2 linked regions of the Homo sapiens genome follow. The protein of the gene in region 2 interacts with the protein of the main gene of each other region in a pairwise test. Each region holds a gene or a part of one and is shown on either strand. Other genes may lie near its edges.

The links. Proteins that work in one complex are often made in the same cells at the same time.
Region 1: the proteins of PRKAA1 (region 2) and FSBP interact in binary tests that used the Homo sapiens proteins (3 or more experiments, as listed by UniProt).

What each region holds. Positions count from the first base shown.
Region 1 is NC_000008.11:94,430,569-94,434,095, forward strand, and holds part of FSBP (fibrinogen silencer-binding protein), read right to left. Parts: intron 2,089-3,527; coding exon 1,563-2,088; 3' UTR 1-1,562. UniProt on the Homo sapiens protein: Transcriptional repressor that down-regulates the expression of the fibrinogen gamma chain. Represses transcription of GSK3B gene promoter via its interaction with APBA1.
Region 2 is NC_000005.10:40,760,277-40,763,939, forward strand, and holds part of PRKAA1 (5'-AMP-activated protein kinase catalytic subunit alpha-1), read right to left. Parts: exon of another isoform or gene 2,747-3,663; coding exon 2,502-2,746; 3' UTR 1-2,501. UniProt on the Homo sapiens protein: Catalytic subunit of AMP-activated protein kinase (AMPK), an energy sensor protein kinase that plays a key role in regulating cellular energy metabolism.

The DNA of each region.
Region 1 (3,527 bases), on a different chromosome or scaffold from region 2:
ATTTCTAACAAGTTCTCAAGTGATGCTGATGCTGCTGGTCAGGACCCATACTTGGAAAACCATTGGTCTACTCCAAAGGCCACAAAGTGGAAGCCCAATGGCTCAGTGAGGCCCACTCACATGTTGTCTGTATAATGTTTTAAAAGCATTTTGTGTTATTTGCAAACATTTTAAAATTGGAAGATTCCTCATTAAAAAATGCAGATTTCTGGTTTATCCCCGCATGTGAAAATTCTGCTGGAGCTAAACAGCAGCTACCCTACCTAGTCCAGGGAGATGTCCTTCCTAGTCCAGGATACTACAGCCCAAATTGACTCTCTCTACATTCACTTAAAATCAATGGCTTAGCACTGCATTTGTGCTTATATACTCAATCCACTTTTTCCCATTCTTTTGTCTTTTTTCCAGCGTCTCACTCTTGACTTCAAACACCCATGGTCCCCTTCACTGCTGAAATTACACCCACCCCATTCTACAACTTGGCTTAAAAATCCCTTCTCAACAAAACCCCAGCAAAAATAGAAATTCTTAAGTAACATACATATTAGAGATTTAATATAAATTTAATATGTATGCTTTAAGAATTGAGGTTTTATTTCCATGAATACTAAAATAACAATACTTATAAAATACATAAAATTTTAATTTTGTTCATTCTGATTTTTACTGTGAAAGAAATTTTTTCCAGAACAGGACATTCAAAATGAATTAAGACATGTCTTTAAATCACACAGCCAAAATATATAATAGCTTCAATGGAATACCTTATCTATTTTGCTGGAACAAAAATAGAGAGAGAATGGGGGTAATTGATGTAATTATCCTGATTTCACAACCTAACAATCTTTAAAGGCAATTTTAATGAAAGAAATGCTTCTAATATTTAAATCTAGAGAATGTTTTAGTGGATATTTACTTCTATCGAATAGCGGGATGGAAATTACACAAAGAAAAACTAAGTGCTGGTCTCTGCTCTGCCATAAATAGCTTTGTTACCCTAAGTAAGTCATTGAGTTCTCCCTGGACCTGTTTCATTACCCCTAAACTGCAGAGATGGAAAAAAAGTGTTCTCCAAATATCTTCCATCTCTAAAATCCTAGGATTTACTCCTTCAAAAGATAAAAGCATAAAAACCAATGTCATACAGACAAGCTTCTTGGTATTAGGTTAGTATAGCTCCTAAATTAGACTGACTTAAAAATCTCTAATTATAGCTTTCAAAGTTCTAACTAAAAATGTTGAAGACTCAGAACTTTGAAAGAATATGTGTTTGTATATGCATTTGTGTATATCTTAGTGATCAGAATAAAATATCTTTTGTAAGGTCAACAATTAAACTTAGGGAAAAAAAAAAGAAGACAATAAAAACTATAACCATGCCAACCAACCAGTAAATTTTAATATCTCAAAAGAAAATAATTAGAAAATTATATCTAAAAAGTTTTTCCATAATAGAGATTAACAACATTTTTCAAGAACGTGTATTCTGTTTCAGGATATTCCCAAATTAAAGTAATTTGGCCAAAATCAAAATTATCAAATTGCAAGATTGAAAAAAAAACTTAGAGACTGTTATATTCAGGTAGATCATGCCGTAAGCGAATTGCTTTCAGCTTCTCCACTTCAATTTTTGCTCTTAGTAGCTCTTCCTCTAGCTGCTGCCTTCTTTTCAATCCATCCCTCTTCTCCTGAACATACAATCCAAAATTTTTTTGATTTTCTAAAATTATCTGATGCTCCTCTTTCAACATTTGCAGGATCTGAGGATCATACCCTAATAGTGACCTAAAGTGTTCACCACTCTCATGCCGAAAAAAATCATCTCTCCTTGGAATAGAAGATGGAGACGATGTCATTCTCATATCAACAGAGGAAAGTGAAGGCGACAAGGATCTTTCCATAACATGTACTAATTCATGTTCTTCTCTTTGCTCTAAAGTATCACTCTGTTGAGAATTTAAAACCAGTGGAGGAGGTGGTTTAATGTCTTCTTCTTGCTTCACCTCCACTGTAATAGCAACAGGATGGTGATCCAACATTACCTGTAGTGAACTGGTACCAGCCTGTGCCTCCTCATCCAAGTTTGCACTATAGCACACAAAAAAGCATTATAATATGTAAATCAAATGAAGAAAAAGTGTATATTTATAGCATAATTTTAATTTAATGTACATTAAATGATAAAGCTTTAAAACTATAAAGTTACAAAATAAAAAAAAATCTTAAACACTTGAAATACATTAAAGTGACTAAGATTGGGATTTCAATAATACATACTCACAGATCTCCCCCATCCTTAACTTTAAAATTGTGCTTTAAAGGAGCAGGAAATTACAAATATTATAGAAGGCCAATGAAGAAAATAAAAAGAAAAGCCAGTTTTCATGTTGTCAAACAGACACCAATCTTTCCCACAACCCTAAGGTTTTCAAATGGTGTACAGAGCCATTTAATGCATTCTCAGTCTTGTTATCCCCATACCTTAGCCCTAGACCTCAGGCTTCTGCTCTCCTGGACTGATCTTAAAACCATGAAGGCCCATAACTTATAAAAGGACAGTGAAAGGCCATCTATGGGAGGTACTGATTTCTGCATTTGCCCAAAAAATAAAACATAAAGATTGTATATGGCTTTGGGATATGCTCAACTACTGGAGGTTATCCTAACTTTCTTATTTCAGATGCTTTTATCTGATAGGAAAAACTTCCGTTTTACCTATTCTGAACCATATGACTCAGATGCTGTTTAAGTCTTTCAATCACTGGTCAGGTAAAGTTCACAAGAGCAATGGTTTTAATCCACAACTGTATACTCAGTACCTAGCAGGTACTGTACTTAGAACCTAGTAGGTGCTCATTATGTGTTGAATGACTGAAAAAAAACAAACTAAATGATTTTTTAATGAAACATTTTTAATGGCCTATACAGATATATTAAAGGTTTATTAAATTTACACATAATTTCCACCAAATATGCATTCCCAATGGAGACAACTACAGCTTTAGCATAATTTAAGCTTCAGCATAACAAGTTATGATATTATAAATGCAATAAACCTTAAAATTCTGTTTTATAAACATAATTTTATGTATAACGTGAAGCTGTGAATTAAGAATATCTGCTCCTTGAGGTTGTTTTTTTTAATTTATGCTTCTGCCTAACTTAAAAATAAAAGTTATAAAGGGAAATTAGATCATTGAACATGAATGGAAATACTTTATTTAATATTATTTAGAGAAGATTTTACATATAATAAGAAACATAATTAAAAGAATACATTCTACATGGATGATTAAAATGCTGGAACAAGTTCAAGCAGAATGCATAGAAAAAGATTAAAACTACCCATACGTTACTTACTAATGCCATTAAATTGCCAGAAATATCAGATATTTATCTAAGAGACAAAATGAAACATATATAGTATATAATAAAAAATCTATTTGTAGGTTATATAAATTCATTTTTGTTCTTGTCTCTGTTTGTGTCATTTTATTATTTCCAAAAACAAAACAATTAATTATAAA
Region 2 (3,663 bases):
ATCATACTATTTATAGAAGTGCAATATTTAAATATTTTCAAAATAAAACACAGTAACTAAAATGAATCACAATAACTTATAAGAGAAGCAAAGTTTACAAAATTAACAATTTTTAAAAGGTCCTATTTAATTGGTTCCTCCTTTTCTTCCCCCCTCCCCACAACAGCGTATATAGCGCCATTACTTAATTCCATATACAAATTTGTAACTTTAAAAATACAGTCTTCTGTTAACATCAGGAACATTATGCTGCACTTAGAGACCCTAAGTAAAATTAGAATCCCCTAAAGAGAGGGCCACATAAAAAGTAAATACAGTTTTGAACTCATATTTAAATGGAACTTCTATTACTTTGTACAGCTTTCAAATTAGAAGTTGAATAGAACAAGCCCTGGACAAAAAGCAGCAAGATTTTTCTTTTGAATTCAGTGCATGATTCTAGAAGTGCTTGAGTCAAATCTACTAGAGTCACCATTTATGCAAGCTATCATGACATTTGAGTTCATTATCATCTGGTTACATAAGTGCTCACTGTATTTGCCAAAAATAATCCTAAAATATGATTCTTAAAATAGAAAAAATATAGCTCTGTTGCAATGGGAAAATGATTAATACAAAAAAATCAATTTCTTAAAGTTAACATAAGGCAAATATAAATGATACAATATTATCATACACGATACCAATTTTATCTGAGGTGACTACATCTTCATTTACATCTATTGTGTGATGCAATTAAGAATGACAAAAAAAAATATCAGTGTAAATCAGAAATCTTAGGAAAATCCAGTATCTTTAAAAAGTAATTTAAGCCCAAAACAAATGTGACCACTTATTAATAGAATTGATTTGTTCCATATTTTATCAAAATAATAATAATGTTATATCCAACTAAAGAGTTATAACCAAGTGTCATATGTAAACTTTAATTGGATCCTAGTTTGAAATAATCAGCTATAAAGAAATTTGGAGTTAACTTCAGAAATTTAAATATGGCTTGATTAGATGATATTGGGGAATTATTACTTTTACAATGGTATTACGGATTTTTAGGAGAATGTCATTATCTGTAGGAGATACTTGAAGTATTTTCACGGTGATAAGTATGTCTGTAACATCCAAATGGTTCAGGGGGAAAAAAGCATATATACATACACAAACAAACACATATATGCATATATATGCATAACTAGCTGTATCTATACATATATAGGTATAGAGAAAACAAATGACAAAACATTAACAACTGCTGAATCTAAATGGTAGATATACATGTGCTTACCAAACAGTTTTTCAATTTTTCTGTTTTTAAAAATGTTCATAATAAAATTTGGGGGGGAAGTCATATCAGAGCACTTAAAGTTTGTAAGAGATAGTTTTCTATGCACTGAATCAATTTAAAAGATACATAATCAAATAAGTAGCAATGTGTGCATATACTCAATAATGACTGACATGATGGGCCAGAGGAATTTGTGAAATTGGCAAAAATAATATGATTTATCTACAGTATATGCAACTCAGCTCTTGTAACAAAAAGAACATTTTGTGTACAGAATATCGTGGGAATATTTTAAGACTAAAATTAGTGCTAGAGTATCTGAATATATAAATTCTGTGTTTTTGGACTTGTAAAGCTAAAATGAAATTTAAATTAGGTCTGATATCTGATATGACTTACCATACACTACAGAATTTTAAAAGGGGGATATGGAGGCCGGGTGCGGTGGCTCACGCCTGTAATCCCACCACTTTGGGAAGCTGAGGTGGTGGATCACGCGGTCAGGAGTTCGAGACCAGCCTGGGCAACATAGTGAAACCCCGTCTACACTAAAAATACGAAAAATTAGCCGGGTGTGGTGGCACACGCCTGTAGTTCCAGCTACTCAGGAAGCTGAGGCGGGAGAATCACTTGAACCCGGGAGGTGGAGGTTGCAGTGAGCCGAGACCACACCATTGCACTCCAGCCTGGGTGACAAAGTGACACTGTCTCAAAAAAACAAAGAGGGAGGGATATGGAAGAAGTTATCCAGACTGTTACTACTGCTGGAAGATACTAGCTATTTATGAAGTTAAGGAGCCCAGAAAACAAAATCACCTATAAAGGTCTTGGGAATTCTAGGCAAATATTTATTGAATAAATTTATAACACGTAATATATAACACGTAATAATATATGAAGGCCTTTATGTAAATTAATATTTCAAAGCCCTGTGTACACTAAATATAAAATAGCCAAAAATCAAGTAAGCCTGAGACCTATAATTCACTGTGTATATTATGCTATATACATACTGCACAATGAACAACAAAATGATCTTAATTCATTTCTGCATATTAGGCTTTTAACTATAAATCATGTTCCAATCCCTGTGCAAATTGCATTCCAAAACGCCAGCCCTCGGTTATAATTATGTATAACTTGATTACAAATGGAAGCATTTGGCTGTGACTTATTATGCATGCTTATTGCTGCAAAAGAAATAAGCAAAGTTTTCTGTTTATTGTGCAAGAATTTTAATTAGATTTGCACACATCTCAAAAAATTCTATTGTGTGACTTCCAGGTCTTGGAGTTAGGTCAACAGGAGAAGAGTCAAGTGAGGTCACAGATGAGGTAAGAGAAACTTCTGAGGATTTTCCTTGAGCCTCAGCATCTGAATCACTCCTTTGGCAAGATCGATAGTTGCTAACTGATCCCGATCTCTGTGGAGTAGCAGTCCCTGATTTGGCTTCTGTAATTTCATCTGGGTAAAAAGAATTTCAATTTATTATAGTCTATGACCTTCTCCCAAAAATTTTTGTAACAGTATTGAATTTGCTTCTTTAAGTGGGGCTGCTGGCCAGCTATCAAGAGCACGCTTATTCTAAATACCTTCTAAAACAGTCAATGAGCCTGTATTAAACTATTCATCTTTTTTACATATAGTATGTATTCTCAAGATAGCTAACCAAAGTTGGGTACAGTATAGCTACTCATCAGTTGCAATCCAAGGTTAAGAGCCCAGTAAACCAACAATCTAGGGATTAATAAATATTATTCTATAGCAATAAAAAGTAATCCCTCTATATTAAAATCATAGAATCGATGCACTTAAAATTTGGAGGGTATACTGGAAACCATCTCATCCAGCCCCTCACTTTATTGATAAGAAAACAAACCCAGAGAAATGACTTGCCCAAGGTAACAAATGAACAGAAAGGTAAGTCTAGAACCCAACTCTCCTAAGTCTCAGCTCAGTGCTTTTTACTTTCCACTTTCCCTTCATATTTCATTTAGTATTTCATAAAAGAGCAACAATTCCAATGAATAAAAATCGAAGAAAAACTAAGGTTGGGAACACAGTACAAAAACAAAATGGGCATTCAATTGGTATACCCCAGTACTAGTAAATCTAAGGTTGCAAATTTGATCCAAATACAAGAAAAATAAAACTCATTCCGTATTTCAGACTGCATTAGTATATGTTAGCAGATACGTACTATATGGACCTAAAGATAACCAGACAAACTGGTTTGGCCAACATATCATGGCTCAAACCTGTGTCTTTCTGCTACTATGTGTGTACTATCTTTGAGTTTATAAAGAAGAAAAAAATTCAAACGTGAACCTCATCTAATAATTCTATGCAACCTTCCATAAGCAAAGGTGATACTATATATA